Regions from separate parts of the Homo sapiens genome. Here region 1 is linked to region 2. The links come from fine-mapping of genetic effects on plasma protein levels. Region 2 holds a variant in brackets. A gene starts in the other region. All regions are shown on their forward strands.

Region 1 (2,916 bases), not on the chromosome of region 2:
GAATATTGAGCTGACAGAATTTAGGAGACTCAGGGAGATCTGGGTTCTACTTAGAAATGAAGCCAGCACTACTTACTGAGAGCTGAGGAGGGTATTTTCCCAGGCTTTCCATTCCTACGATGAGAATGCTGGCTGCCTTAACATAAGCTGCTGAAAGATAACAGGACTTCAGGGAGACCAGCCCGCTGACCCAACTCGGGGCAGAATAAGGGAACAAGAATGGTAAAGTTGTTGCAGCTCAATTCAAGACTCAGCTCTGGCCCAGCTTTGGAAGGAGGAACTAAATCTGGGCATTCCAACTTCCCAATAGCTGCTGGGCTGTGTTCGTGGGGGCTGGGGGCTGCTCCTCTAAGAATGACTGCCTGCCTAGAATTACTGGGCATAGCGCCCAAGATAGGGTAGAGGCCGTTGAGAGCTTTGACCTCTCCATCTAAGCCCAAAGCAGTAGAAGAAGGGCTGAGGTCAATCATTAGCTAAGCAGTTTCTACTTTTCTTCCCACTCGCAGGGCCTGTAGGGTAGTGGGAAGAGCTCTGGGTTACAGATCTAGAAACCTTAGATTTTCATATTGGCTCTGCTGTGGAATTGTTATAATACATTTCTACTCTCCTGGTTTCAGTTTCCCTGTTGAACTAGATGGTATGGGAATCTCCAAGTTCCTCACCTGTGAGATTCTTTGAATCCTGATTCTTCTCCATCCCAACACCACAGCAGTTCTCCACATCCTCCTAAACCAGTGATCCTCCCTCCCAGGTCTTGACCTTGCCTTGGGACCCTCTACTGCACATCAGAAGTCCAATGGCTTTCTCTGCCTACCCCTCGCACAGATAGGTGAGCCTTGGGTTGCAGGAAAGGCCCAGCTGATCATGGGCCTCTTGCCCCACCCTACCACGAGGCTCACAGACAGTGATGAAGGCCTGGATACATAGACTGCAGGACAAGGTCAGACTGGCTGGTGAGAAAGGGCATTCTCCAGCAAGAATTCTCTTCCCTAACCAAGCAGAGATGGGGATTGCTGCTTACTGCAGGTTCCTGTCTTACGTCCTTCTCATATCTGATTCACTGATCCACAGTTTTTTCCCCACTAATCTTTTTCCTCCTAGGTATTTCCTACTTGTTTACATCATTGTACACTCCCTGGCTGCCCCATTCCCTTTCTGGGTTCAGTCTCCTCCAATTTCTAAACTACCCATGCCCCTGTTCTTTTTCTCCCCTGGCTACACTCCCTTTCCTGTGATCAGTGTTCTTTATCCAAACCCTCCTCCTACCTCCAAATCACATATCCCTCTTCCTGGAAAGAGCCTCCCACACAGCTGCCTCCTTCCACCACCTCCCTACCGTGGTCTCTAACCAGATTTGGACCACCAAAGCCCCCTCTGAACAGGCCCCACCTGCTCTAGGCCAGGCTGCCATCTCCGCGCTCCCCTATTCCCCAGTCTTAACCAGGAGGGATGCGGCAGGAGTGCTGCGTGGGGCTAGGCACGCCACCAGCCAGTCCCCAAGCCAACATCCTGAGCCCCGCGGCTTGCTCACCGAGTGACTTCATGTAGTCATCGAAATTCTTGCTGTCCACTAGCTTCCAGGTGCCCAGGAAAGCGTCCACCATAGTGATGCTGGGCTAGGCTGAGAGAAGCTACAAGAGAGCAGGCGTGCAAGGGCTCCGACGGCGGCTCCCTGCCCGGGCTGCCGCTTTAAATAGCCCTCGCATCACATGAGGAGACGTGGCCCACGCCCCCGGCTCCCGAAATAGGAAGCCCCAGGCTAGGGCTCACCCAGGAGGGGCTGGTGCGCCCATCCCCCAACCCACCGAGGTGGGTGGGGACCAGCCAGTGGCGCCCTGCTAGCCTGCGTCAGCGCCAGTGCCTGGCCCCCGAGTCCCTACCCCAGGCTGGTAGGACCTTCTCCCTTTCCTGGCCTCTAGGCACTCTGGAATCTGAGAAGGAAGCAGCCAACACCAGCCCGAGAGCTAGGGCGCATGCCATGGTGGATATCTTCCCGTCCCCCAGTCCCTCTTTGAGCTTAGCGTCAGAGCAGAGATGAGACTAGAAAAGCAAAACGCCCTTGGGCTGGTGCCCACGCCGGGGAAAGCTCTGGTTGACTTCTGGCACGGGCATCTGTCCTCGTTTTACAAGTGAGGAGTCCGAGGCTCACAGGGGAACTGACAAGGTCTCAAGAAATAGGAGGGGGTGAATGGAGCTCAGATTGCAAGCTTAGTCTAGCGGGCTTCAGAGCTCGCGCTCTCCCTTCACTCTCACTGCCTGGTGGCGGAGACAGTCACCAGCGGCTCGGTCTGCGGCTGAGCTGACCTTGTCCTCTGCCTGTTTTGAGCAAAAGCCTGACCCTTCGCGCCCCGCCCGCCTCACACGTGCTTGCCCCTCCCTGCGGAATGTCTCCTGCTGGCCCTCCTCCGTCCCCACCCCACCCCACCATCTAGCTCCCCACCCGCCCCTGCAAGTGCTCTGGGCTTTTCCGGTTTCTTCGCACAGCTCCGAGCTTTAGCTCAGGTCGTTCCCAGCTCCCCTCCTGCAGAAATTCTGCCAATTCGGTCAGCTCTTCAAGGCCCATGGCTGCCTTCCCCACCTGCCGCCCTTTCTTTGGCCTGTGCACACTAGCAAGCCGCCTGCACTTTTGGGTAATTTGCTGCCTCCTTTCGAGAGCCTGTTGTGCGGTGGTTTGTCACTGTATAGTTTACTAAGCACTTTCAGTAAAAATAAGACCTGCCTTGTCTTGCTATTTATTGCATGCTGAGGGCTTTGGGTGTATTGTTTCATTGAACTTTTTATTTTATTATTATTTTTTAGAGACAAAGTCTCTCGCTGTGTCTCCCAGGCTGGAGTACTGTGACGCCATCATAGCTCACTGCAGCCTCAAACTCCGGGGCTCAGGGGATCCTCCTACCTTAGCCTCCCCAGCAGCTG
Region 2 (2,869 bases):
GATTGAGAAAAATGGGCTGATGGAGCATATAAAGTTGAAGACTGATCACTGGCACATCAGCTCTATCAGCTCATTTTTTTTTCCTTCCAGCTTACACTTCAGGTAATTTGTTTTTGATATCCATATGTTGTATGTTAATGCTTAGAAACAAAATTGAAATACTGCTACATACTAAATAGCATAGACTAAATATATGTGTGGTACAGATAATGTTATTACAATGTGAGGATAATACTGAAGCTAAGTTTCTCAGATGTTTATGGATTCATTGTAAAAATAAGTCATTTTAGAAAAAAATGTTTGCATTGATTGATTTATCAAGATTGTATTCAATTTAATTCTATCATCATTCTTTTGATTATTTACTATGTCTTCAACTAAATATTACATCTTGGAAATACAAAATGAGAGCAGTCCCCTCACACAGTATCTAACACACATCTACCTATCAGATGCTGTGTTAAATGGTGCAGTGCCACAGATCAGTTGAAAGTCTAATAATTAAAATGGACAGGTTAAAAAAGATCATAGATTTAAATATATGGCATATTTTTCTAAAAAATAATACTCAAAAGAAGGCTCTCCCTATATTTGAGCTTTTGTAGAGTGTCTCATGTTATTAGATTTCTCTTATTTTCTTAGTTATGACTAACAAGATAGTTTAAATTAAATATTAAATGTGATTTCAATAATGTATGCATTTTTACCATATTGCAAATCTAAGAAATATCTCCTGCTTTCTGAGATCCTGAAAGATTATTTCGTTGTTAATCTGTTACTGTTAGATACCCAAGTCCAAAGTTTAGTAAGATAATTTGTATATTTCCACATGTAATAAATACTTACCTGATTTCATTTAGTAAATTCTCAGCAATTTCTTTTTTTGACAGGTTTAGAGTTCTTGAGGGATTTTGTTTTTTATGCTCAAGGAATAAGACTTGTGACAATTGAAAAGGAGAAAAAAGTAGTACTTTAAAACTAAGATTGTTGAAATATCCAGTTTCCTTATGAATACTTAAAGAATTTTTAAGTTAAGTCTATAGCAATAATGTTGATATTATATTTCTAATAACATTGATTCTGCCATTTTTAAAACATTAAAAATAGACATGGTAAACAGTAAATTTCATAAAATATATTTTTGTACTTTTTCTGATTTTGATGTCATGTACTATTACAATAATTTCTACATTTTTCAGAAAAAAACTGGGAGAAAAAGTTCATTCACTCTGAGTAAGCTAAGGAAGTTGTGAATGGCAGATTAGCAAGGGAATATGATGGCATTATAATTTAATTTCAAGTTTATAGTGATCTGGAAAACCAAATTAGGGAAATTAACAATGCAACAATGTTCATCATCACTGAAAAGAATGAAAAAAGACAGGATAAACAGAAAGATGCCTATTAATATTAAGAGTGTTGAAATATGAAGAATGGGATGTTCAATAAAGTTAATATTGAATATGATAAATACATTTTAAAATCTCATTGAGAAAAAATGTTTATAACCTTTATGTTCAGATATGTGTTCTTGTTAAGCATATATAGAAATTACAATTTAATATTAAGTACTTTCACAGAATCATATGGCATGCTACTAGAACACAAAAGGTATCACATCTTTCTGCCTAGGAAACTGTGGAAAGACTCACAGATTTGGTGAGCTGGGATCTATATGAATAAGGAGGAAGATTAATCAGGTTAAACAACAACAACAAGAAAACCTGACTTTCTGAGGAGGAGAAAACTACTTTCTCTCATTCCTAAATGGGTACTAAGTTAAAAACAAAACACTTGGTTGTGAGAATTAAAATGTTGTGCCGATAAACGCTGTCACTTTTCAATTCTTTGAAAACCAAGAGCTAGGCTGCATATTTCATAGAATTTTTGCTAAAGTAGTCATGTTTAATTCCTTGGCCTGCTGCATATGTCACAATCCTGTAAACATCCAAGATTCAAACTTGGAGAAAGATGGAAATGTATATCTACAATGCGGTCAGAGAAATGTTTTCAGTTTTAGAGAGATAAAGCAAAAGTCCATGCAGATTTTGGATATGGTTTTGATTTGTTAAGTTCATTCCTAGAAATTACATTGTAGAATATTCTGTAGTTTATTTAAAAACCATTTAAATTCTCTTTATAATACAGAGGCTTTCCAAATTATCTTATTTAAATTTTAAAGTTAAATTCCGTTTAATTGGCTTTCTACTTATATCTGTTATCCCTTTTAATCCTTGTATCAGTCCTTGCAGTATGGCATAAGCACCATCTTGTGTTAAAACATGATAATGATATGGAAACTGAAGTTTAGAGAGTTGAGTAACTTCACCAAAATTACATGTCTAGAAAGCAGTGGAGCCAAAATTAGAATATATGCCTGTCTGAATACAAAATCAAGGCTCCAGACTATAACATTCTTCCATATTCTGATTCTGTTTTTACTCTTTTTCACAGGAATTATTATGGAGAAAAAATTGGTATCTATTTTGTCTTTCTTGGATTTTACACAGAAATGCTATTCTTTGCAGCTGTAGTTGGCTT[A/T]GCTTGTTTTATTTATGGCTTATTATCAATGGAACATAACACAAGCAGGTAAGTGCACCTGAGTTGCCCAGATAGAGAAAACATCTTTATCTTGTGCCAAATGAAGTTGTTGTTATTATTTCCCTGGCATTTCCTTCAGAATGTTTCCTTATAGCAGCAGATAATCGATATTTTCCAAAAACTACTCAAACATAACAGTTGCCTCTCACCTGGTGCTTTATGGAAAATCTGTTTTTAAAGCTGGGCTCTGAAAACTCTACTCCTCAAAGCATGACTTGACCCACTATAGAAATTGCTGCTTGATTGCCCCTTCTGTTATATGTGAGAA

Which allele goes with the higher level. Alleles are on the strand shown, and positions count from the first base shown. The strength of an association depends on the size of the effect and on how common the allele is.
For the plasma level of the protein whose gene starts at base 1,666 in region 1, T is the high allele of the variant in region 2 and A is the other (weak association).

The links. A credible set is the group of variants that fine-mapping cannot tell apart. PIP is the chance, under the fine-mapping model, that this variant and not a neighbour inherited with it causes the effect. Protein levels are from antibody-based Olink assays in UK Biobank. Linkage for the fine-mapping came from a reference panel and not from the study's own genotypes, which makes the PIPs less certain.
Region 1: it holds the start of FABP3, and the variant in region 2 is the best candidate, but not a certain one, in a credible set for the plasma level of the FABP3 protein (UK Biobank, PIP 0.61).

The regions. Positions count from the first base shown.
Region 1 is chr1:31,371,411-31,374,326 of GRCh38, forward strand. FABP3 (fatty acid binding protein 3) reads right to left here and starts at 1,666. Exons shown (of 4, transcript NM_004102.5): 1 at 1,532-1,666. The coding sequence starts at 1,604. It overlaps LOC124903892 (a long non-coding RNA gene), which reads left to right and starts at 2,889. Exons shown (of 2, transcript XR_007065573.1): 1 at 2,889-2,916. RefSeq lists a silencer at 1,852-2,146.
Region 2 is chr11:22,247,783-22,250,651 of GRCh38, forward strand. It overlaps ANO5 (anoctamin 5), which reads left to right. Exons shown (of 22, transcript NM_213599.3): 10 at 2,455-2,589. Among named protein-coding and RNA genes, the nearest start is that of ANO5, 56 kb to the left of the region's middle. The variant A/T (reference allele first, on the strand shown) is at 2,542.